Linked DNA regions of Homo sapiens: region 1 is linked to region 2. The links come from fine-mapping of genetic effects on gene expression. A gene starts in region 2. The other region holds a variant in brackets. All regions are shown on one strand. Distances are from middle to middle.

Evidence for each region.
Region 1: its variant is fine-mapped to the expression of AP5Z1 in whole blood (TOPMed, PIP 0.94).

What each region holds. Positions count from the first base shown.
Region 1 is chr7:4,792,600-4,808,647 of GRCh38, forward strand. It overlaps RADIL (Rap associating with DIL domain), which reads right to left. Exons shown (of 15, transcript NM_018059.5): 10 at 12,967-13,117; 11 at 10,947-11,155; 12 at 9,054-9,396; 13 at 7,572-7,711; 14 at 7,031-7,170; 15 at 4,456-6,884. The coding sequence ends at 6,779. AP5Z1 (adaptor related protein complex 5 subunit zeta 1) reads left to right here. Exons shown (of 17, transcript NM_014855.3): 17 at 1-1,798. Among named protein-coding and RNA genes, the nearest start is that of MIR4656, 12 kb to the left of the region's middle. RefSeq lists enhancers at 145-224, 329-1,003, 15,673-16,048 and a silencer at 5,579-5,628. The variant CA/C (reference allele first, on the strand shown) is at 7,393.
Region 2 is chr7:4,769,367-4,779,518 of GRCh38, forward strand. AP5Z1 (adaptor related protein complex 5 subunit zeta 1) reads left to right here and starts at 6,257. Exons shown (of 17, transcript NM_014855.3): 1 at 6,257-6,390. The coding sequence starts at 6,350. It overlaps FOXK1 (forkhead box K1), which reads left to right. Exons shown (of 9, transcript NM_001037165.2): 9 at 1-2,076. RefSeq lists enhancers at 4,999-5,675, 5,676-6,352, 5,726-5,775, 5,816-5,905, 6,336-6,405 and 2 more and a silencer at 6,086-6,215.

The sequences.
Region 1 (16,048 bases), 26 kb after region 2:
CCCACAGCCTGGGCCTTGGGTCGCGTTCCGAGCTCCAGGACGGCTGGTGTCCCCCGCGGCCTGCGATGACAGCCCAGGGCCGCTGAGCCGGGGCCGCAGGAAAGGCTGGCGCTGGCAGGCGCTTCCGTCGGCAGCACTGTGTTTGTGTTTCCACGTGGAAACAGCAGCGCACGTGTACAACTGTGCATACCAAGGCGTGCGTGCCAGTGCGCGGGTCTCGGGATCACTTCCCAGTGCGGTGCACGACCCCGCCTGCAGCAGTGGGTGTGGGGGCGCTGCTGGGCTCATCCCGAAGCTCAGAGAGCGTGGGGCTGCCCCTAGGCTCGGAATGAGTCTCCCACTGAGTCCGCAGCTCCCCTCCTGCCCTGGGGCGGGGCTTCCCTGACCTGAAGGCGTCGGGGGTGTCCTGGCTCCCAGCTCCCAGGCACTCGTGGGGCCACCGCCCAGGCCAGCTGGTGCTAAGTCCGCAGCCTGTGCAGCAGCGCCCGGCTTAGGACTGGGAGTGTGACTTGAAGGGCCGTCCCGCTCATCCAAGGGACAAGGAGGAGCTCATGGCCACAGGGCCTCGGAGGGCATGACCCCAGCCCAGGGAGGAGCAACCTTCAGGTGGCCTCCAGGAGGCAGCTGGGAAAAGGGCAAAGCTCACCAGCTCTCAACTTTTTTTTTAAATAAACTGAAATTTTAGAATAGTTTTTCAGATTTACAGAAAAGATGATAAACCTTAGAAACATTATATGCTAAGTGAAAGTGAGAAGTGACAGCCTGCTGGCAGTCCTCACAGCCCTCGCTCGCTCTTGGCGCCTCCTCTGCCTGGGCTCCCACTTTGGCAGCACTTGAGGAGCCCTTCAGCCCGCCACTGCACTGTGGGAGCCCCTTTCAGGGCTGGCCAAGGCCGGAGCCGGCTCCCTCAGCTTGCGGGGAGGTGTGGAGGGAGAGGCGCGGTGGGAACCAGGGCTGCACGCGGTGCTTGCGGGCCAGCGCGAGTTCCGGGTGGGCGTGGGCTCTGTGGGCCCCGCACTCGGAGCCGCCGGCTAGCCCCGCCAGCCTGGGCAGTGAGGGGCTTAGCACCTGGACCAGCAGCTGCTGTGCTCGATTTCTCACTGGGCCTTAGCTGCCTTCCTGCGGGGCAGGGCTGGGGACCTGCAGCCCGCCATGCCTGAGCCTCCCCCCTCCCCTCCGTGGGTTCCTGCGCAGTCCGAGCCTCCCCAACGAGTGTTGCCACCTGCTCAGGGCACCCAGTCCCATCGACCACCCAAGGGCTGAGGAGTGCCTTTGGAGCAGGGCACGGGACTGGCAGGCAGCTCTACCTGCAGCCCCTGTGCAGGATCCACTGGGTGAAAGCCAGCTGGGCTCCTGAGTCTGGTGGGGACTTGGAGAACCTTTATGTCTAGCTAAGGGATTGTAAATAAACCAATTGGCACTCTGTATCTAGCTCAAGGTTTGTAAACACACCAATCAGCACCTTGTGTCTAGCTCAGGGTTTGTGAATGCACCAATAGACACTCTGTATCTAGCTACTCTGGTGGGGACTTGGAAAACCTTTTTGTCAACACTCTGTATCTAGTTAATCTGGTGGGGACATGGAGAACCTTTGTGTCTAGCTCAGGGATTGTAAACGCACCAATCAGCACCCTGTCAAAACAGACCACTCGGCTCTACCAGTCAGCAGGATGTGGGTGGGGCCAGATGAGAATAAAAGCAGGCTGCCCGAGCCAGCAGTGACAACCCACTCGGGTCCCCTTCCACACCGGGATGCTTTGTTTGTTCGCTCTTTGCAATAAATCTTGCTGCTGCTCACTCTTTGGGTCCACACTGCCTTTATGAGCTATAACACTCATCGCAAAGATCTGCAGCTTCACTCCTAAAGCCAGCAAGACCACGAACCCACTGGGAGGAACGAACAACTCCAGACGCGCCGCCTTAAGAGCTGTAACACTCACCGCGAAGGTCTGCAGCTTCACTCCTGAGCCAGCGAGACCACGAACCCACCAAAAGGAAGAAACTCCGAACACATCCGAACATCATAAAGAACAAACTGCGGACACGCAGCCTTTAAGAACTGTAACACTCACCGCGAGGGTCCGCGACTTCATTCTTGAGGTCAGTGAGACCAAGAACCCACCAATTCCGGACACAAAAGAATCCAGACCCAAGGCCACATACTGCATGACTCAGGTCAGAGGCGTGGGAGCCACAGCAACCGCGTCTTAAATAGGGGCTGGGTAAAAACGAGGCTGAGACCTGCGGGGCTGCATTCCCAGGAGGACAGGCATTCTTAGTCACGGGATGAGACAGGAGGTCAGCACAAGGTACAGGTTCAAGATGCGGGTCCCAAAGACACTCCTGATAAAATAGGATGCTGTAGAGAAGCTGGCCAAAACCAAGACAGCAACGACAGTGATCTCTAGTCATCCTTGCTGCTCGTTAGTTGCTAATTATAATTCATTAGCATTCTAAAAGACACTCCCACCAGCGCAGTGACAGTTTCCAAATGCCACGGTAACGTCAGGAAGTTACCTATGTAGTCTAAAAAGGGGAAGGACCCTCAGTTCCAGGAAATCTTCATCCCTTTCCTAGAAAACTCATGAATAATCCGCCCCTTGTTTAGCATGTAATCAAGAAATAACTCTAAATATACTCACTAGCGCTCATGCTGCTGCTCTGCCTTTGGAGTGGCCATTTTTTTTTTTTTTTTTGAGACAGAGTCTTGCCCTGTTGCCCAGGCTGGAGTGCAATGATGCAATCTCGGCTCACTGCAACCTCCACCTCCTGGTTTCAAGCAATTCTCCGGCCTCAGCCTCCTGAGTAGCTGGGATTACAGGTGTGTGCCACCACCCCCAGCTAATTTTATTATTTATTTATTTTTTTTTTTTTTGAGACAGAGTCTTGCTCTGTTACCCAGGCTGGATGGAATACAATGGCACAATCTCAGCTCACTGCAACCTCCGCCTCCCAGGTTCAAGTGATTCTCCTGACTCAGCCTCCTGAGTAGCTGGGATTACAGGCGCTTGCTACCATTCCCAGCTAATTTTTCTATTTTTAGTAGAGACGGGGTTTCACCATGTTGGCCAGGATGGTCTCAAACTCCTGACCTCAGGTGGTCAGGCCTTGGCCTCCCACAGTGCTGGGATTACAGGCGTGAGCCAACGCGTCTGTCCCACCCAGTTAATTTTTGTATTTTTAGTAGAGATGGGGTTTCACCATGTTGGTCAGGCTGGTCTCGAACTCCTGAGCTCAGGTGATCCACCCACCTCAGTCTCCCAATATGCTTGAATTATAGGCATGAGCCGCTGCGCCTGTTTCTTTTCTTTCTTTTTTTTTTTTTTGAGGCAGAGTCTTGCTCTATTGCCCAGGCTGGAGTGCAATGGCGCGATCTCGGCTCACTGCAAGCTCCGCCTCCCAGGTTCACACCATTCTGCCTCAGCCTCCCAAGTAGCTGGGACTACAGGTGCCCACCACCACGCCCGGCTAATTTTTTGCATTTTTAGTAGAGACGGGGTTTCACCGTGTTAGCCAGGATGGTCTCGATCTCCTGACCTCGTGATCTGCCCGCCTCGGCCTCCCAAAGTGCTGGGATTACAGGCGTGAGCCACCGTGCCCGGCCTGTTTCTTTACTTTCTTAATAAACTTGCTTTCACTTTATGGACTTGCCCTGAATTTTCCCTTGCTCGAGGTTCAAGAACCTTCTCTTGGGGTCTGGATCAGGACCCCTTTCTGATAACACTTACATGAAATATCCACAAGAGGTGTAGACAGAGGCAGAAAGTGGGTTTGTGGTTGCCAGGGCCTAGGGGCAGAAGGGAATGGGGAGAGCCTGCTTAGTGGCCGTGTTTTCCCCGTTGGAGGTGACCAAACTAGACAGTGGTGATGGTTGCATAACACTGTGAACGTGCTGCTTGCCATTGAATTATACACTTTAAATAGCTAACTCTATGTGAATTCCACTTTAACTTAAAAAGTGGTGACAACTGAATATGTACAAAGCGTAACTGCTATATTAATAGTAACAAGTCAACGTCGGTTTTCAGGTTTTGCAGTGGGAGAAGCTGGTGGAGGTACACGGGACTCTGCTATTTTTGCAGCTTCCTTTGGATCTATAATTATGTCAAAATAAAATGCTTTTAAAACACAAAAACAGGCCGGGCACGGTGGCTCACGCCTGTCATCCCAGCACTCTGGGAGGCCGAGGCAGGCAGATCACCTGAGGTCAGGAGTTTTGAGACCAGCCTGGCCAACATGGTGAAACCTGGTCTCTACTAAAAATACAAAAATCAGCTGCGTGTGCTGACAGGTGCCTGTAATCCCAGTCAGGAGACTGAGGCAGGAGAATCACTTGAACCTGGGAGGCGGAGGTTGCAGTGAGCCGTATTGCACCATTGCACTTCAGCCTGAGTGACCAGAGTGAAACTCCATCAACAAAACAACCAAAAAACAAAACACCCATAAGAAGTGTTACCTTTCACAGTGTTGTAGATTGTCTGGGGCCTGGCTGGGAAGTCGTTCTGCTCCACGTGGTGTCCCCGGGATCACTGGTGGGACTGCATTCGCCTGGAAGCTCAGCAAGACCAGAACAGCCAGTGGCAGCCCTCACCAGTCCCGCACCTCAGCTAGGTGCTTCAGCGGCCAGAGGCTAGCTGGGCCTCCCCGACTCCACGGGGCCTCCCTTCCTTGGGGTGATGCCAAGAGCTTCTTTCCATGGATGCTGAGTTCCAGGAGCATGAAAATAGAAACCAAAGGCCCTTCAGTCTGGCTTGGAAGGTCCCAGAATATCACTTATGCTGCATCCTGTTGTTCGGAGCAAGTCAGAAGGCCGGAGAATATTGCAGGGAAGAAGAGATAAGCCCCCTTCTCTTTGTGGGAGGAACTGTTGGTGGCCACCTTTGGAAATGCCTTGCCACTGTCTTTCCTCTGGCCACAGTCCACACCCCTCCCACATAAAAAATATACTCAACCCCCTTCCACCGTTAAGGCATCAAATCAGAGTCCAGGATCCTGGGATCTGCACCAGGTCCAGAAATGCAGACCGTCCAGAGCTGTGAGACATTCTCGGCAGTGCTAACACACACGTTGTGGGACTCCTAGGAAAAGAAACAGAACAAGGCCAGGCATGGTAATCCCACGCCTGTAATCCCAGCACTTTGGGAGGGCAAGGCGGGCAGATCACTTGATGTCAGTTTGAAATCAGCCTGGCCAACGTGGTGAAACCCTGTCTCTACTAAAAGTACTAAATTAGCCAAGCGTGGTGGCAGGCGCCTGTAATCCCAGCTACTCAGGAGACTGAGGAGAATTGCTTGAACCTGGGAGGTGGAGGTTGCAGTGAGCTGAGATTGCACCACTGCACTCCAGCCTGGGTCACAGAGCGAGACTCCGTCTCATAAAAAAAAATTAAATATTTATATTTTATATAATAAAATATAAAAAATGTTTATAAAATATACGAATATATTACGTATACATGAATATGTAATATATTCATATATAATTATATATTTATATATATTCATATATTTTACATATCTTAAATATATATACAAACACTATATATATATATATATTTTATCCAGTATTTTGGGAACCTGGCAGTGGTCGCCGTTTCGAGCCAGGCGCAATGCGGAGCCGCACACAGAACTGCGGGTCGGCAGAGGGCGCGGGGCGGACGCGCTGCACCTCGCCGTAGCGCACACCAGGGGGCAGCGTGGAGCTGCACGAGGCCCAGGGCCTGGGACAGACCCAGGACACCGATCTGGGGACCCCGCACAGACCTCTGTCCCAGTGAGAGGTGCATCTGCAACTGATGCCGGGACCCTCTTCCCCAGGGTTTCTCTGTTGCTATCAAAGATGACCCTGGGCCACCAGTTCCACCACAGCCAGGAGGGCGCGGAAGCCACCCACACCCAGTTGGTGGAGCTGCTGAGGATGCCCAGCGACCCACGCTGTCACCCCGAGGCAGCAAGTGCCCTGCCCTGGTCCTGCGCATGGTCAGCCAGCTGGTGGAGAGGGACGCTGGCCTCCTGCCCGGGTTAGGGCCGGTGGCCAGGGGGACGCTGGTGAGGATTAAGGGCCTGGGGCCGCCAGCCTGGTATCAGGGCCACGCTGGTGGCTTTAGTAGGGGAGAGGAACTCAGGAGGGAGCAGGAGTCCTGGGAGAGGAAGCAGGGCCCAGGGTGGGCTCGGCGCCTCAGAGACCATCAGGCCGGTCCACTTTCCAACGCCTGGGTGTCTAGACCTTTCTCTGGGGCCTGTGCTGAGCAGCGGGATCAGAAGTCCAGCATCCTCTGCCAGGTCTGGCCCTGCTTCAGCTGGGAGGGGCTGTTGGAGCTGCTTCCTGCAGTGCCCTGTGTCTGGGTGGGACGGGGGCAGGGAGAGTCAGTTCAGATGATCCCCTGATGACAGCTGTCACTGCATTCTCCCGTGCCGGTGGCAGGCAGAGGCCATGGGGAGCCCCTGCGGCCCCTCCGAGCAGCCCACGCCTGCTGCCCGAGTTGAGACCCCAGCAGGGCACCCTCTAAGAACGGGAAAAATAGTTTATTGAACCGTACTTCTCCATTGAAGTCTTTAAACATAAAAGCTCTGTAACAAACATCACAATTTCACGTCATCTGCCATATAAATAGAACCTACACTGAGATGCATGTTATCAACAGGCATGTCCCCAGGGTGAGGCTCCCCACCCGGGACCCAACTTGGTCAGTTACAAAACAGGGACGAAGGCGGGAGGAAGCCCAGTGTCACCAGGTGGGACCGGGTGCCGGGCCTGTGGGGGTGTCCTCGCAGCCCCCCTAGAGAGGGGGCGTGCGGAAATGGATCTTCTTGGCTGTTTCCACGTCGGACTTCGCGACCAGGAACCGCATCTTCTTCCCGCCATGACGGATCAGGTCCACAGCTCTGAAATCCATGCCAGAGGTGGGGGTGGGCAGGAGGGCACCAGGGGAGACCCACAGGGTGCAGCCGGGCCTCTCCTTTACCCCAGGTCCACTCCCCTGAGCAGGGCATCTGGGAGAAGGGGCCGGGCGTGCATGCGGTGGGGGTACCTCAGGTAGCCAAGGCCCAGGAGGCTGCTGCCATTCACCTCCAGGATACGGTCCCCCAGCGACAGGCGCCCGTCGGCCGCTGCGGGGCTGCCCGGGAGCAGGGTCTGGATGTAGAGCCCGGGGGCGCCCAGGTGCGTGTGCTGGGGACAAGCAGAGGCCTCAGAGCTCCGCAGGCCCGACTGGCTGTCCCCAGCGAGGACCACTGCAGCCCCTCCCTTGGCACCTACAGGCCCCCGCCTGGCATCCAGCCAGGCCCACTCATGGTTTCACGCGTCCCTCCAGAAAAGCAGTGGACACCACCGTCCCCACAGGCCCAGGACAGACCCCAAAGGCTTGAGGACAGAGGCAAGAGACAGCAGGCC[CA/C]GGGGGCGTGGCCGTTGGACAGGCTGGGTTCCCCTCCCAGCTGCAGAGGCCAACCCCACTCTCCTCCCCGAAGGCCTTCCTGTAGCCACGTGGCCACGCAAGCTGCGGCCAGGCTTGCATGAACAGGCGGGGCCAGGCAGCCAGTATGGGGGTGCGGCGAGGGTCCTGGGCCACTCACCATCCCGTCGATCAGGCCCATCCCCAGCCCGGAGGGGCCTCGTTCCAGCTCCACCGTGAAGACGTAGCAGAAGTCCTCGGTGCTGGAGCTGCGGCTGGACGGGGCTGGAGGGGACTCCTCCGCAAGGGCTGCAGAGTCTCCTGGGTGGGGGCCAGGAAAGGTGGGTGGGAGTGAGGCGCCAGGAATCACGACGAGGAATGGGATGTCCTGGCCTGGCTGCCTCTGTAGGGCGTCAGGGATGGGATGGCCTCCTGTGGCTCCCAGGAGACGCTGTTCAGGCAGAATGTGACCGGCAACCCAGACATTAGGGTCGGGGTCCGCCCATGGGCGACACCCCCATGTTCCCTGAGGGAGCACCTCAGTCCCCGCCCCTGGCAGTCCCAGGACACTCGCCCCTCTGGGGGCGGCTGTTTTCCAGCTCCAGGGACCCACGCGGTTCTGTGCCACCTCCTCAGCAATCTCTGCTCCTCCTCCTCCTCCCTCCACACCCAGATGTGGCCATGTGCACCCTGAGGGTTCCCACCGCTGACCAGACCGGGGCCCCAGGCCCTAGCCCAGCCCAGCCCAAGCACCTGCCCTGAGGGCCACCAGCTGGTGCCCTCTCCATAATGGTGATCCTGCCGTGGGTGCACTTAGGTCAGAGATGAGCTGTGCACCTGAGCAAGTGGCCTGCCTGGGACCCAGCTTGGCCAGGTGGCCCCAAGCCACAGGGGACACTCTGACTCTGCACACGCACCCAGGACACTTCGCTCCTGCAAGGCACACCCAAGCCCCTCACAGGAGGCCAGGGCCGGCTGGGGCTGCCTCACCCTCAATGCCCTCCCCAGCCTAGGCCAGCTGCGCACACACACTCATGCACACATATACTCACAGCCATGCACACATGTGCAAGCATGCCCATGCACACGTGCACTTACACCCATGCACAGATGCACACACAATGCACACCATGCAGACACACCCATGCAGAGATGCACACACAATGCACACCATGCAGACACACCCATGCAGATGCACACACCCATGCACACACGCACCAGCACACCCATGCACCTGTGAGCACACATATCCACACGCACAAGCACACAGGCACACACAGGCCCTGCCCTGGAGGACTCCAGCTCCACCTTCTCCCTGAAGACCCCTGGGTTCCCCCTCAGCACATCCTCTCCACTGGCTCAGCCATCCCTTCCTCTGCCCAGTGCAGGAGTGACTCTGAGCCACTTTCTAGACTCTCTCCCTCCCAGATCACAGTGAGTATCTGCCCAAGACGTGTCAGCGACTGAGCGACCGTGTGGCCCAGCTGCTGGGGGCTGAGCAGCCCTGAGCCCTCTCCATCTGGCCCCGTCTCAGGTTGCAGGTGTCTGTGGGGCAGGTAAGGAAACCTAGGACCCAAGGGGGGAACGATCCCAGGGGACCGGCCATCAGGGTGCTGTGCGGGGTCTGGGGTGGGTTCCCGCCTGAGCACCAGGCAGGGCTCACCTTCCGGAGCTGCACCCCGGAGGCCGCTGAGTCCGTTCCTCTGCCTCTCTGGGAGCGCTTTTCCACAGGGGCCGCCGGACTCTGGCCAGTCGGGGTCCCCAGGCTCAGGGCCAAGTGGAGTGCTGGGAGGCGTGAGCAAGCAGGACGAGTCCGTGTGCGGGGGGCCAGCCTGGGAGCCCCCACGGCTGGGTTGCCTTCCAGGGGGGGCCTGTGCCCAGGGAGCCCCCCTCAAGGGAAGAGTACGCTCCGGGGCCACTTCCCGGGCTGCTGGGCCAGGGTCCCTGGGAGCCAGGGGGCAGCTCGGGGCCTCCAGGTGCCCGTCAAGGACCACGTGGTGCATACCCTAGGGAGAGGAAGGGTGACAGCTCAGGTAGAGGAGTGGCCAGGTGGACACAGCACTCGGGCAACTGGGCAGCCTGCAGCAGAAGGGCCGCCAGGCCGCGGGGCAGAGGTCAGCAAAGGACTCCCGCAGCCTGTGCAGCTTGAGACGCGCAAGAGGCAAAGGGGCTTCCCCGCCATCCGGAGCACAGCCTGCGCTGGGCCAGGACTCCCGGGGTTCCCAGAGCTCCCGCCTGCTGCCCCCAGCCCAGCTTCCAACCCTTCTCCTGTCCTCCCGGGCACCTCGGGGCACGCTGGCTGGGGGGCCCCCTCCCCAGGTACCTCGGGGCATGCTGGCTGGGCCCCCTCCCCGGGTACCTCGGGGCACGCTGGCTGGGGGGCCCCCTCCCCGGGTACCTCGGGGCACGCTGGCTGGGCCCCCTCCCCGGGCACCTCGGGGCACGCTGGCTGGGCCCCCTCCCCGGGCACCTCGGGGCACGCTGGCTGGGGGGCCCCCTCCCCAGGTACCTCGGGGCATGCTGGATGGACCCCCTCTCTGGGCACCTCAGGGAATGCTGGCTGGACCCCCTCCCCGGGCACCTCGGGGCACTCTAGCTGGGGGGCCCCCTCCCCGGGTACCTCGGGGCATGCTGGCTGGACCCCCTCCCCGGGCACCTCGGGGCACTCTGGCTGGGGGGCCCCCTCCCCGGGTACCTCGGGGCACGCTGGCTGGGTCCCCTCCCCAGGCACCTCGGGGCACGCTGGCTGGGCCCCCTCCCCGGGCACCTCGGGGCACGCTGGCTGGGGGGCCCCCTCCCCAGACACCTCGGGTCATGCTGGCTGGACCCCCTCCCCGGGCACCTCGGGGAATGCTGGCTGGACCCCCTCCCCGGGCACCTCGGGGCACTCTGGCTGGGGGGCCCCCTCCCCGGGCACCTCGGGGAATGCTGGCTGGGTCCCCTCCCCGGGCACCTCGGGGCACGCTGGCTGGGGGGCCCCCTCCCCGGGTACCTCGGGGCACTCTGGCTGGGCCCCCTCCCCGGGCACCTCAGGGCACGCTGGCTGGGGGGCCCCCTCCCCGGGTACCTCGGGGCACGCTGGCTGGGTCCCCTCCCCGGGCACCTCGGGGCACGCTGGCTGGGGGGCCCCCTCCCCGGGTACCTCGGGGCACTCTGGCTGGGTCCCCTCCCCGGGCACCTCGGGGCACGCTGGCTGGGGGGCCCCCTCCCCGGGTACCTCGGGGCACACTGGCTGGGCCCCCTCCCCGGGCACCTCAGGGCACGCTGGCTGGGGGGCCCCCTCCCCGGGCACCTCGGGGCACGCTGGCTGGGTGGCCCCCTCCCCGGGCACCTCAGGGCACGCTGGCTGGGTCCCCTCCCCGGGCACCTCGGGGCACGCTGGCTGGGTGGCCCCCTCCCCGGGCACCTCGGGGCACACTGGCTGGGCCCCCTCCCCGGGCACCTCGGGGCACGCTGGCTGGGTGGCCCCCTCCCCGGGCACCTCGGGGCACGCTGGCTGGGTCCCCTCCCCGGGCACCTCGGGGCACGCTGGCTGGGGGGCCCCCTCCCCGGGTACCTCGGGGCACACTGGCTGGGAGGCCCCACTGCCAGGCCTGCCAGGGCTGCCGGGGCTGGCTCTGCTCCGCAGACCCCACAGAAAGTGGCGGACGTAGAGCAGGTGCTGGTAGATGCTGTCGTCCAGGCAGTTGGCTTCCAAGTCCACCTGGAAGCCGTCGCTGGGCAGGACGATGGGTGGGGGGTTTTCGTAGGACTCCAGAACATCCTCTGCAGGGGAGAGAGGATGCCCGTAATGGCCACAGGAGAAGCTGCCTCCCTCGCCAGGCCGCCCCGCCCAACGGTGTGGGAACCCAGGGGCCAGCAGATTGAGCCCTGAGTCCCCTGCCCTGTGGACACAGGAGGCTGGGATCCTGGCCACAGTGACTGGCCCCACCCTAGGACTCATCCCTTCTGAATTCCCGCCGACCACCCGGTGTGACATCCGAGCAGTTCAGGACTGAGAACAAGGCCTTGTAGCCAGGAACCCTCCAGCCCCACTGAGCCGCTCTGCACTGGGCCTGTCTCTGCCCCACTGGTCTCTGATGGTGTCTCCGGGTAACTGGAGCTCCCCCAGCCCGGCAGAGCTGGACGCAAGCTCCTCCCAGGGCTGGAGCCGACTGCCTCCCTGCAGGAATCACGGGACCCAAACGGCCTGTGTGCGGGCTGCTCTCTGCCCCCAGGAACAGGAGCACCTTTCAGGCGGCGGAAGAGTGCGTGCATACTGAGCTCCTAGCTCCCAGCACAGAATTCAGGCCACAGAAATGAATCAATGCGGAGGAAGGACTTAGAAGGTGTCAGGTGGAGCCAGGGTTCCTGTTCAGAGATGTTCTCCACGGTGACCCGGGGCTGCGGGGGGGCATCCAAGGCCCCATCGCCTCTGCGCCTCCCGCCATCCCGTACTCTGTTTTGTTGAGGTGTTAACACATAATGCAGATGAAGGGAGATGTGTGTATAATCTACACATTATAATGCACCCCTGGCCGGGGGTGGCGGCTCACGCCTGTAATCCCAGCACTTTGGGAGGCAGGAGCAGGCAGATCGCCTGAGGTCAGGAATTCGAGAGCAGCCTGGCCAACATGGTGAAACCCCGTCTCTACCAAAAATACAAAAATTAGCCAGGCATGGTGGCACACACCTGTAATCCCAGCTACTTGGGAGACTGAGGCAGGAGAATCGCTTGAACCCAGGAGGTGGAGGTTCCAGTGAGCCAAGATCGAGCCACTGCACTCCAGCCTGGTGACAGAGTGAGACTCTGTCTCAGTCAATCAATCAATAAAAGGCACCCTCGGCCAGGCACGGTGGCTCATGTCTGTAATCCCAGCACTTTGGGAGGCTGAGGTGGGCGAATCACCTAGGTCAGGAGTTCGAGACCAGCCTGGCTAAGATGGTGAAACCCGTCTCTACTAAAGATTCAAAAATTAGTTGGGCGTGGTGGCGGACACCTGTAATCCCAGCTACTAGGGAGGCTGAGGTAGGAGAATCGCTTGAACCTGGGAGGTGGAGGTTGCAGTGAGCTGAGATTGCACCACTGCACTCCAGCCTGGATGACAGAGCAAGACTCTTGTCTCAAAAATAAAAATAAAATAAAACGCACCCCTATGTATGCACGTACACATGTATGCGCACACAGACCCCTCCGTATGGACATGTGTGTGTGCGTGTGCACATACATGGCTCAGGGATGCGTCCCCACGGCTGTGTACCACCATTGCTCCCTTCCTGGGTAGCCATACAACAGGGGAGGCCCCATCCTCCGGCTCCGTGAGGGAACGAGGGGGCCTTGGACCTGAGCCTGGAGTTTGGAACTTGGGCATGGACTCTCGGCTCCTTGACTCCCCCGCCGAGGAGGTCCCCGGATCCCCAGGTTGGGGATGGGGCGGGGCGGGGGGGTCCTCTGGGTGGAGGCTCCTCCAGGGAGGTCCCCAGGAGAGAGGTCCCCCACACCCCACTTCAGTTGGGATGAGAGCATGCTGCCTCCAGCCTCGGGGCGAGTCTCCCACTGAGTCCCCAGCCCTCTCCTGCCCTGGGGCAGGGCTTACCTGACCTGAAGGCCTCGGGGCTGTCCTGGGCCCCTGGCTCCCAGGTGCTCATGGGGCCCATGGCCGAGGCCAGCTGGTAGTGAGTCAGCAGCCGGTGCAGCTGTGCTGGGCTCAGTGCGGGGAACGCAGCCCGCAGGGCTGTCCAGCTCATCTGGGTGACAAGAAGGAGCTCATGGTCACAGGTCTCTGGGTGCAGACCCCAGCCCAAAGAGGGATGGCCTCCACAGGTGGCCTGGGGGTAGCCAGCTGAGGGGCCCTGTGGTCCTCACTCCCACCAGGGGCCATCTGTGAGGGGGACGGTGTCACAGCAGCAGTTCACCCCTGGCACTTCCAAGGGCAGCTGCTCCAGGGAGAGGCCGGCCAGTGCCATCGGGAACCCCCTGCCCAGGGAACCCACCCCCGTCTCAAGCAAGGGCCGGCCTCACAGGCGGCCGCCAACCAGAGAAACCACTACTGGGAAATGAACAGTGAAATCAGATTCCTGCCTCCAACGGTGTGAAAGAAATCAATCAAGTCGGCTAAAAACCTGCCTGGAAGGCAGGGACATTCATCATTTAGGTGACAGGAGGCAGGGAAAACATTTGTTTGTTTGCTTGTTTTTTGAGACAGAGTCTCATGCTGTCACGCAGGTTGGGGTGCAGTGGCTCAATCACAGCTCACCGCAGCCTCGACCTCCCAGGATCAAGCGATCCTCCCACCTCAGCCTCCTGAGTAGCTGGGACCACAGGCTTGCACCATTATGTCCAGCTCATTAGTTTTTTGTTTTTGTTTTTTTTTGTAGAGATGGAGTTCTCACTATGTTGGTCTCAAACTCCTGGTCTCAAACTCCACGGCTGGTCTCAAATTCCTGGCCTCAAGCAATCCTCCCGCCTCAGCCTCCCAAAGTGTTGGGATTGCAGGTATGAGCCACTGGCTCCGGCCCAGGAAAACGTTTTAGGCAAGACAAAAAGCCTACACCGTAAGGAAGGGTGGATCCCTCCAATAAAATTAAACAGCCTCTGCGGCCCGCCAGGACCTCCATCATCATCCTTCTGGGGTTCCTTTCCCCGGCTCCCAGCCGGTTCTTATTTTCTGCAATTCATTTCTTCAGCTCTCTGGTTTGTCCTGTTTCTATGGAATAGATCTTCTAGTAGCTTCCCAAAAGGGGCGCATTGCAGGAAACCCACTGCCCTGCGTGCTGGAACTGTCTTCACCTCCACCCTGGACTGGTCATCTGGCTGGCACAGAACTCCAGGCGGGAGGGCGTCACCCTTCGGATTCTGCAGGTGCTGTTTTGTCCTGTGACTCCCGTGCTGCTCGTCCAAAGCAACCTGAGTGCAAATCTTCAGGGTCTGCCTTGTACTGATTCTTGTCTGGAAGCCTGTGGGTTCTCTGCACCCATCGTCCTGCAGCCCTGGGATGCTGAGTTTTGCTGTAAGCCCACTCTTGGCAGCAGCTCCTCCACCTCAATGCGTGGCTCTGGAGACTGCCTGCACCTGCCTTCCCCGCGCCCTCCACCCCTCTGCTGGCTCTTTCTGGACTCCCACTGTTTGGATGTGGCCTCGCTGCTGGGTCCCCTCTGTTCTCACCTTTGCCTCCTCGCTCTGTTTCTCTCCCATGTGTTTTTCTGCCCATATCCAGGGGCCTGGGCTGTGGCTACCAGATGTCCACGCTGAAGGATAATCGGTGTCTCGGGCGTCGTGCAGGAGGGGTGAGGGCACAGAACGACGTCCTCCAACACCACCGGCCCCCACCACCCTCACCCCTTACACACCCTTCAAGAAAGCCTCTGGTTTGCCCGGGGGTGGTTCTGTTTGATTGTGAGTTCCTAGAACCTTCTCTACTCTCACTTCTGTGCTTGGTCCGGGACCAGAGGTCGGGGCCAAGAGATCAGCTTCAAGGGAACAGAACTCTCCTCCTTCTTCCCTCTCCTTCTCCCCCTCCCTCTGTCTGTCTCCTCTCCCTCCTCCCTCTCCGTCTCCCCTCCCTCCTCTCTCCCTCTGTCTCCCCTCCCTCCTCCCTCTCCTTCTCTCTCTCCCTGTCTCCCCTCCCTCCTCCCTCTCCTTCTCTCTCCCCCCGTCTCCCCTCCCTCCTCCCGCTCCTTCTCTCTCTCTGTCTCCCCTCCCTCCTCCCTCTCCTTCTCTCCATCTCTCTCCCCTCCCTCCTCCCTCTCCTTCTCCCCCTCCGTCTCTCTGCCCTCCCTCCTCCCTTTCTCCCCCTCCGTCTCTCTCCCCTTCCTCCTCCGTCTCCTCTCCCTCCCTCTCTCCTCCTTCCTACCCCTCTTCTTCTCTCTCCCTCTCTCTCTCCCCTCCCTGCCTCTCTCTCCCCCCCATCTCTCTCCCCTCCCTCTTCCCTCTTCTTCTCCCTGTCCCTCCCTCTCTCCACTTCCTCCTCCCTCTCCTCTCCCTCCCTGTCTCTCTCCTCTCCCTCCTCCCTCTCTCCCTGTCTCTCTCCCCTCCCTCCTCCCTCTCCTCTCCCTCCATCTTTCTCCGCTCCTTCCTCCCTCTCCTTCTCTCCCTCCCTCCCTCTGTCTCTCTCCCCTCCCTCCTCCTTCTTCCTCTCTTCCTTCTCCTCCTCTCCTTCCCCTCTTCCTCTCTCCCCCGTCCTTCTCTCTCTCCCCTCTCTCCCTGTATCTTCTTCTGCCTTCTTACTCTCCTCCCTACCCTGGCATCCCTCCGCCCCCTCTCTCTCCCCGCTCCTCACCCTCCTCTCTGGAGGGCTTTTCTCCCAGGCTCTGCACAGCTTTTTATTTCTGCTTCCACAGTTTTATTTTCCAAGACCGCTCTTGTTCTCTCATGGATACAATCTTATTATTATTTTATGGATACTATATCTTCTCTTATTTTTATGAAGCTATAAGTGACTCTTTCACTAAGCTTCTCCTTGAATTGTCTGTTTCAGGGGTCATCAAACTAGGGCCAGCGAGGCCTATTTTTATAGGGCCCCCAAGCTAGAAATGGTTTTCACGTTTTTAAAGGGTTTGAGAAAAACAAAACAAAGAAGGAGATGGGACATAGACAAAAGCGGCCGCAAAGCCCGAAGTCCTCACAGCTTGGCCCTTTACAAGAAGCAGCCCCGCGGCCCTGGTCTCTCCTTCCAACGC
Region 2 (10,152 bases):
GTTCCATCGTCCAGATTTCAGGCCACCAGAGGCTGCCAAAGGTGACTGAAGCGGTCTCCAAGTCACTCTGTCACCACTTTTTTTTTTTTTGAGATGGAGTCTCGCTCTATCGCCCAGGCTGGAGTGCAGTGGCCCAATCTCGGCTCACTGCAACCTCCGCCTCCCAGGTTCGAGCGAATTCTCCTGCCTCAACCTCCCAAGTAGCTGGGATTACAGGCACCTGCCACCACACCCGGCTAATTTTTGTATTTCTAATAGAGATGAGAGTGTTACCATGTTGGTCAGGCTGGTCTTGAACTCCTGACCTCAGGTGATCTGCCCACCTCAACCTCCCAAAGTGCTGGGATTATAGGCATGAGCCACCGCGCCTGGCCTCTGTCACTTTTTTTGCTCCTTACCCAGTTTTTGTTTTTTGTTGTTTTGTTTTGTTTTAGCGTGATACTACAATGGAAAGACTCCTAGTTGGTTATTCTTTATCTCGGATTCTTTTTTCTGGAATTGTTTGCTCATTTGAGTGGTTGGTGGTTTGCCCTGTGTCAGACACGGTGAAAAGAGTGCAGGAAAGCTGGGGCCAGGGGAAGCGAAGTGGCTTCAATCCGGGCTGACAGCCAAGAAGAGTTTTCCTCCCTTCGGTGACAGGGCCTGCCCCTCCGAGTCTAGAGGTAAAAGCAGCTTCTAGAACTGGCCCCTAAGTCTCCAAATGTGTTGGCTAAGCTGAAATGAGAGACTCTGAATTAGAGTTTTTGTTTGTTTGTTTGTTCTCTGCATGAAGTTCACAGGCCTGTATGGATGTTAAATTGTGTCTATAGCCTCTAAATCTCCAGGTTAACTGGTCCAGATTTTTTTTTTTTAATCAGTAACAATGGGAATTTAAAATCAAATATTTGGCCAGGTGCGGTGGCTCATGCCCGTAATCCCAGCACTTTGGGAGGCCGAGGCAGGCGCATCACCTGAGGAGTTTGAGACCAGCCTGACCAACATGGTGAAATCCTGTCTCTACTAAAAATACAAAAAATTAGCCAGGCGTGGTGGCGTGTGCCTGTAATCCCAGCTACCAGGGAGGCTGAGGCATGAGAATCGCTTGAACCTGGGAGATGGAGGTTGCAGTGAGCCGAGATCATGCCACTGCACTCCAGCCTGGGCAACAGAGGGAGACTCTGTCTCAAAAATAATAATCAAATCAAGTATTTTAAGTTTGGCTCTTCTTTTTTTCAAGAAAGGCTTTTTGGATACCTAGAATACCTTCATGTATGTGGCTTGATTTCTGTTTCAGGAAAAGGGGGGCGGGAGGAGAGACAACAGCCGTGTTCCAGAGTCTGTCCTGAGATGTCGCTGAGTCCAGACACTTGGGCTGCACGTGCCCTGCAGATGACAAAGGCCGGCAGCTCAGCACACGTGCAGGAGGGGTTAAAGCCAATATTGAGTTTTTGTTCTTGTTGTTTTAATCTGAACGATTATTCTCCTGTAAAAATAATTTGGGAGGGGCGGGTGTTGTTCGGTGTGTGTGTGTGTGTGTGTGTGTGTGTGTGTGTGTGTATTTTTTTTTTTACAGTGGCGCCTGTCTAAAGTATTTTTCACAACATGTTTGATAATCAGTGCTTTAAAAAGCAGCAGTGTCCTATGAAGTGGAAATGTCAGTTCTAGAGCATTGGATGTGAAGTTCTGGTCATGTCACCTTGCGTGTCTCACCCTGGAGGAGTGAAGGTGGGCGCCCGGCGGGGGGGTGTGGCTGCACCCCAGCACCGGGAGGGGGCACGCACGACACCAGAGGAAGGGACAGCCCCACCCATGTCAACAGCAGGCAACCTGTGTTTTCATTTCAAGTGGGATACAGTATTTTTTTAATAAGGAGCCATACTTTTTTTTAAGAGTTTGAGATCTGAATGTGATTTCTAATTGTATCAGACGTTAATGTTTTAAAGCTATAACAAAGTTTAAAATTTCTACTTTTTGTTTTTCATTTATTTTAACTGTTCTTTTATCTATTAAATTGTTGTATGTGGATGGGGAAGTTTTGTTTCTCCTCTTAGCATTTGTTTCTATAACCAGAAATAAAATTCTATATTAAAGAAATGACCCTGCGGCTCCGGTGTGGTCCTTCTGCGCAGGTGGCTACTGAAGGTGGCGGACGGACAGACGGCCTGGACACACAGACACCAGGCCCCTGGACACATAGGCTCCCGACCCCCTGGATACACAAACACCTGACCCCCTGGACACACAGGCTCCTGACCCCCGGACACACAGACCCCTGAGCCCCTAGACATACAGGCACCTGGCCCCCTGGACACAGAGGCTCCCGACCCCCTAGACATACAGGCTCCCGGCCCCCTGGACACACAGGCCCCTGACCCCCTGGACACACAGGCCCCTGACCCCCTGGACACACAGACCCCTGACCCCTGGACACACAGACCCCTGAGCCCCTGGACATACAGGCTCCCGGCCCCCTAGACACACAGGCTCCCGACCCCCTGGACACACAGACCCCTGACCCCTGGACACACAGACCCCTGAGCCCCTGGACATACAGGCTCCCGGCCCCCTGGACACACAGGCACTGCGCCCCCCTGCTCCAGAGGCTGAAGGGCGGCTGCTGATAAGGGAAGTCGCCCATAGGTCCCTGGTGTCCCGTTCCTGGCTCACACAGGAGATGCTTCTGCAGGTGCCTGTGGCTCCTGGAGTCAGTGACCCCCACCCACTGAGAGTGCTCTAAGCGAGGATGTTTGCAGCTCCAGGAATGTGAAGACAACGTGTGTCTCCCCTCAGACATGGCAAAGGCAGAAACCAGCTGAGCCAACCCCCTGCCCCTGGCACACGCCCACATCCTGGCTGGGGGGCACTTGCAGGTACTCGTTGCTGCCCCAGTGGCTCCTGGGCAACTGTGGGTCCTTCCTGCTGGCCCTTGGCTAGATGAGAATTTCTACCCATGTCCAAGATGGGTAGAAATGTACGTGGGTAGAAATTCTCTCAGGCCTTACTTATTGTAGGTGTGGGGCCTGGGGGGTGGGGATGGCATTGACTTTGGAACTACACAGACCTGGGTTCAAGTTCCTACTGTGTCCTTACCAGCTGTGGGACTTCAGCTTGCAATGCGCCCCACTTCTTCACATGCAGCACAGGCACCCCCACCCCACAGGCCTGGCGCCCCGAAGCTCAGCTGCGATGCCATCAGTCACTGTCTCTTCTGAGAGTCCCCCAGACTTATGAGACCCTTGGGTGTGTCTGTGTGACTGCCTCCGACAGACTTGACAGTGGTGCATGCTTGTCACATGTCTCTCTTCTGTCAAGGTTCTGTAGTGTTTGCATGTGACTCCCTCAGTTCAATAACTTGCATTTTTCCGATGGCACAGTTACCCACCATTGCAGGTAAGGTTTCACTGCTTCTCTGTCTTCCTTCAAGTTACTCCATTTCCATTGTAAGAGGTTAACATAACTTTAACAGATTAGTTCTAGTTTAAGATGTCAGCCCAGGCTGGGCGCGGTGGCTCACGCCTGTAATCCCAGCACTTTGGGAGGCCAAGGCGGGTGGATCATTTGAGGTCAGCAGTTCAAGACCAGCCTGGACAACATGGTAAAACCCCGTCTCTACTAAAAAAAATACAAAAAATTAACTAGGCATGGTGGCTTGCACCTGTAATCCCAGTTACCTGGGAGGCTGAGGCAGGAGAACTGCTTGAACCCAGGAGGTGGACGTTGCAGTGAGCTGAGATCACGCCACTGCACTCCAGCCTGGGGGACACAGCAAGACTCAGTCTCAAAAAAAAAAAAAAAGAAAAAAAAGAAAAACATTTTAGCCCAATAGCAAACATGAGTGAGAAGCGTATGTAGGCTTCCTCCAGGGATCTGCGTTGGCTAATTATTAATTGCATCTTTCCTTTTTAAGATGTTGTCTTTGTGTTTGTTTGTTTGCTTGCTTGTTTAGAGACAGGGTCTTGCCATGTTGCCCAGGCTGGTCTTGAACTGGGCTCAAGCGATCCTCCTGCCTCGACCTCCCAGTGTTTGGATTACAGGTGTGAGCCACCGTGCCTGGCCTTTTTTGCTTTTGATTAGCACAACCATTTTTCACTAGTGAGACCTTAAAATAATATTTTACACTAATGTAAATATTTTGTAAGAAACAAGTCAAATATTACCCCTGGTAAAATTGCTTAAGGTCGTGTCTGTGTGAAGAGAGAGAGGGAGAGAGAGATTGAGATTCCTGGCACACAGTTGGAATCTCAGTTAAAGTTAGCTTCCCTGTGAACCTGGTATCTATACAACAAAGAGGGGTGCATCTCTCAGAACCCCAGAAGACATACAATTGTGCACTGCAGCTCTATTCGTTATTGTCAAAATCTGGAAACCGACCAAATATTCATGGACGAACAAGAAAAGCTAAGTACGGTACGATTCCATTTGCATGAAGTATAAAAAGACGCAAAACTAATCTCTGGTGATAAGAGAGACTAGCAGTTACTTGTGGGGGAAGGGAGTGGGCGTTGACTGGGAGGGGGCCACAGCGGGGAACCTCTGGGGAGCTGGAAATGGTCTAGGTCTTGAACTCAAACCATGGCAGGAACATTTACACCACAGAAATTATCAAACACAAATCAACCCCCGGCTCCCCACCGTCGCCAATGGAGCCGAGGCTTAAGACATTTGCAAATTTACCACCGATTTCTAGAAATGTAAATAGTGGAGTTCATTTAAGATTTGTGCGCTTTGGTGTGGACGTTTTACCCTAGTAAACGTTAAACACTGGCAGTAGGCTTTCCATAGACTACCTGTCACCAGCTTTCCTTTGCCAGTCTTCAACCTGCGGCTCCAGGGGCACCCGCCGCACTCCACCGACTCCCATCCACCGCTCACCATCCACCGATTCCCATCTCTTCATTCTCTGCACCAGGTGCCCTCAGACATCACTGGGCGCCCTAGGGCATCTCAAAGCCATGTTTGGAACTCCTGCAGGAAGCCCTCCCTCCTCCTCCTCCTTCCTTCCATCCAGGGGTCTTCTCGGGGCTTATCCCTTCAAGGCCTAACCTTGACCCACCCTATCTACGCAACATTGATTCCCACCCCTACCCTATTCCCCAGAACCTTCAGCAGTGCCTAGCGCAGCTAGGACTCAATCATCGCTTGTCCACTTAATGAATGACTCTTGGCACAAATTTCCTCGTCCTTTTCTGCCCCAGACAGACACCCCACAAACATGAAGTTACCCTTGATTTTTCCACTTTCTTCCTCCTGCCTGCAAATTCCTCAATCACAGGTGGTGCAAATCCTACCTCTAAATGGTACTGAATCTGCCTACTTTCGGGGCAACCTCCCTTACCTGGACCACAACTGCACCAGCCTCCTTTCTCCCTCAGGAGCTTCCCAATCCATTATCTCCCCTGCGGCCAGAGATCAGTTTCCTCCTGGGGTGCATTTAAGCCATAGGAAGCAGATCGCTACCCTAGGCCCGTCCCTCCCCACCCCTTGGTCTGGACACCCTCTGGGCTCATCTTAGGCCGCAGTCGCCGAAGCCTTCCTCCTCCGGTTGGACCCCCAACCAGGTCAGGCTGTCATAGCGTTTATCATGACGCTGGCGTGTCGCCCTGTGTCCCTCGGCCGTCTGCAGGATGGCAAACTTATGGCCAGGGCCCAGCACATTTGGGCACCCAACACATCCGTTAGAATGAACAGAAACTTCCCCTCTCCGAGCCTGTGGCCTCATCTGTAAAACAGAGATCGCGAGATCCCATGAATACCGTGGGGATTGAATAAGGGATTTTTTCGTTTCAAGCAGCAGGAACAGCGCGGGATGGGTGCTCAATAAATGGGAGCTCAAAAAATCCCCAAAACTGCCCAGAGCCGCGGCTATTCCTTGCAAACTGCTGGACACTGCTGGGCTCAGCCCACAAGTGTCGGAGTTTGCATCAGATTTTCAGGTCGTACTTAGCAAAGGGACTCCCGCACGACAAAGCTGTTTACGAAACAGAAACCAGAACTGGGGCAGTGACACTTTGGGGCCAGCAATGCCCTCTCCCAAAGCCCCAGGCGCCCAATTTCCGCCGAAATGCTTTCCGGGGTCGAAGGGCGCCGGGGCTCCAGAGTGCCGAGGTTCCGGGGTCGCGCGATTCCGCAGCTCCCAGGCGCCGACCCGGACCCCCGGCCGCGGCACCTACGCCCCGCCCCAGTCGCTCCACGCCAAAGCCCATTGGTCGGCAACCTGTCCCTCCTGCTCATGTGATGCGGCACGTGACGCAGCCACGTAAGGCCGCTGCGCTCACGTGACGCGGTCCCGGAAGTTGACCGGGGTGCGGAGCTCCTGGGCTGCAGCTCCTGGAGTTTCCGAGGTTCGTGCGCGTCTGGTGGCGGCGGCGTGATGTTCTCGGCAGGAGCGGAGAGTTTGCTCCACCAGGCCAGGTACGGGGGAGCTGCGGCCCCGGCCCTCCTTCCTGCATCTCTCCCTAGGGGCACACGGGGGTGGGTCTCACAGGGCAGGGGCTTGGGCGCCAGCCTTGCAGGAACCCGACTGGACTCGCCCTCGAGACTTGGGGATCGGGTAAGGCAACACGGCGGCCAGGCTTGGGGTGAGGAGGTCGGGGAGGGTCATGGTGGGTCCCCGGAGGAGGTGACACTTGAGCAGAGTCTTGGTGAGTGAAAGCAAGTGGGGTGGGACCCAGTCGACAGTTTAGTCAAAGGCTTGGCGGTGAGAACTCCGCGTCTGGCAGGAAATCGGGCAGCCGGGAGATTTCAGTGCCTCACAGTCAAGAACGCAAAGTCACAGTGTCCGGAGGCCTGCTAAGGAATAAGGCTGTGTGCCAGGCTGGGGAGCTGGAGGCCATCCGAGGGCTTTGCGGAACCGTGGGAGGGTTTTGTGACTTAAAAAGATCTCTCTTGCGCGGATGTATTAGCTAGGCTGAGAAATCACCCTCCAGGCTGGTTTCAGGCTGTGTCTGGACTCCCAGTAACGAGTGAGTAGCTCCTTCCTCACCAACTAACCAGTCATGGGGGAAAACAGTGTAAGCCAGGACTGAACAGACTCACGGTCCACCAAACAGGCAAAGACTTCATACTACATGTTTAAAAGAAGAAAATGCTGACCGGGCGTGGTGGCTCACGCCTGTAATCCCACCACTTTGGGAGGCCAAGGCAGGCGGATCACCTGAGGTCAGGAGTTCGAGACCAGCGTGCCCAACATGAGGAAACCACGTCTCTACTGAAAATACAAAAAAAAAAAAAAAAAAAAAAATTAGCCGGGCGTGGTGGTGGGTGACTGTAATCCCAGCTACTCGGGAGGCTGAGGCAGGAGGATTGCTTGAACCTGTGAGGTGGAGGTTACAGTGAGCTGAGATGGCGCCACTGCACTCCAGGCTGGGGGACAGAGCGAAACTCCGTCTCAAAAGAAAAAAGAAAAAAAGTAAAGAAAATACAGCCAGCACTACAGCCCCTTGGTAAACGTAAACAAACTTGGTGAGGTGAGAGGCCGAAGCAGGAGAAGTGCATGAACCCAGGAGGCCGAGGGTGCAGTGAGCCAAGATCGCACCACTGGACTCCAGTCTGGGTGACAGAACGAGACTCCATGTCAAAACAAACAAGCAAACCTGGACTCAGAGCTAGACCAATTGGTGGGAAAGATTCGGGTGGTTGAAATTGCTGTGATTATAGTGAGTGAGGTCTTGAAGGCAGGTTAAGTTCTAAAGCCCGAACAGGACAAAAATCTCTGATCAAAATAACCCTTAAGAGTCCACTCATTAGGAAGAGGCTTGGTGAATATGCAGCACCATCTCCCAGCAGCTCAACATAGGCAACCTTCCCTTCAATCCTGGACAGATATGTCATTCATGTGAATGTGGGGACTATATGAAAATGAAAAATACTGGCATCTCAGCATGTAACATGTTAATCCCAAGGTCCTTGCCAAGAGACAAGGAAAAACACCCACTGAGAACTTCATTCCCAGTCACATTCTGCTCAAGGTCATAAACTTGTGACATGAAAAACAAAAGGAAGAGCCCTCTTTATTTATTTATTTATTTATTTATTTATTTATTTTTATTAGAGTCTCTTTTGAGACAGAGTCTCCCTCTGTCGCCCAGGCTGGAGTACAATGGCGCAATCTCAGTTCACTGCAACCTCCGCCTCCTGGGTTCAAGCAATTCTCCTGCCTCAGCCTCCCAAGTAGCTGGGATTACAGGCGCCCGCCACCACACCCGGCTGATTTTTTGTATCTTTAGTAGAGATGGGATTTCACCACATTGTCCAGGCTGGTCTCGAATTCCTGACCTCAGGTGATCCGCCTGACTCGGCCCCTCGAAGTGCCGGGATTACAGGTGTGAGCCACCATACCCGGCTGAGCCCTCACTATTTAAATACCTGTTTCTCTGCCTCCCTGGCTCGGGTGGGCAGCCGTTTTTGAGGATAGAGTGTGGTTGAATTTCCCTATGTAACATACATGAGTTCTGCAGTTGCCCTCTGTTAGGGTTTCAAGAAGGTTAATCTATTAGGGCTTACCAGTTTTCACAATATTCTTAAGCCTGTGATTTCTGATGATATTTTAAAATAAATGACTGTAGTTTGAGGGTTAAGGTTTGGAGCCGGCCAGGCGCAGTGACTGGCCCACGCCTGTAATCCGAACACTTCGGGAGGCCGAGTTAGGAGGATCGCTTGAGGCTAGGACTTTGAGACCAGCCTGGACAACATAGCGAGACCCGTCTCTACAAAACAGAATTTTTAAAAAACTTAGCCAGGTGTGGTGGCACGTACCCATAGTCACAGCTACTCAGGAGGCTGAGGCAGGAGGATCACTTGAGCCAAGGAGGTTGAGGCTGCGGTAAGCTATGATGGTGCCACTGCACTCCAGCTCGGGTGACAGAGGGAGACCCTGTCTCCAAAGAAAGCCAAAAAGATTTGGAGTGAACTTTAGTTTCTCTCTAAATGTGTCAGAGATACGGAAAGCAAGGGTGCAAAAAGTGATCAAAGATAGCGCTGCAAGCTGAAGGATAAATGGAGAGAGCGGGAAGCGAGTAAAGGATGGGGGCATGGAGGGGTGCCCCGCAAGGTCGGGGATTTCCAGGAGGAAGAGCCTCAGCCCACTAGCTCGGGAGCTAGTGGGGCATGTATCAGGCACAGGGTCTGTGCGAAGGGACAGAAGCAAAAGAAACAGGACATGGAGTCTGGAGAAGGAAGGCGGGGCCGGGCTCTTGGAGGCAGCGTTGGGGTCTGTAGGAGTTTGGATTTGAAAGCAGTGGGGAGCTGTTGAAGGGTTTGGGTGGGTTGGATTTTAGAGAGAAGCTTGAGACTTGGAGAATATGCTGAAGGGAATTTAATCGGGATGAGGGGTTCCACCTTTCTGGGAAAGATTTTCCATTGTGTGTATATATGTATATGTGTGTATATATAATTTATATATAACATTTTATATATTATATATTACATATATATTTAGTAATATATAATATAATTATATGTTATATATTATATGTTATATTATATATCATTATATATAATATATAATGATATATAATATTTTATATATAATCAAAAAAAGAATAAAAAAAATTCACTGGGCTTAGTGTAGTCCCAGCTACTTGAAAGGCTGAGGTGGGAGAACTGCTTGAGCTAGAAGATCAGGCTGCAGTGAGCTGAGATTATGCCACTGCACTCCAGCCTGGGTGACAGCATAAGACTCTATCTCAAAAAATATATATATAGATAGATAGATAGATATAAAAATATATTTTTATATGTAATATATATAAAATATATATTATATACATTTTTGAGATAGAGCATATTATATATTATATATAACATATATAACAACTATATAACATATATAACATAACATATATAACAACATAATATATAGCATATATTATGTATAACATATATTAGATATAACATATATAACATTAGAAATAATGTATATAACATAACATAACGTATATAACGCATATAACAACATATATAACGTATATAACATAACACGTTATATATGATATATAACATATAACATGTTATATATCATAACGTGTTATATGTCATATAACATGATTATTATATATCATATATAACATGATAACATATATATCATATATAACATATATAACATTATATATAACATATATATTATATTATATATATATATTTTTTTTTGAAGTAGAGTCTTACTCTGTCACCCAG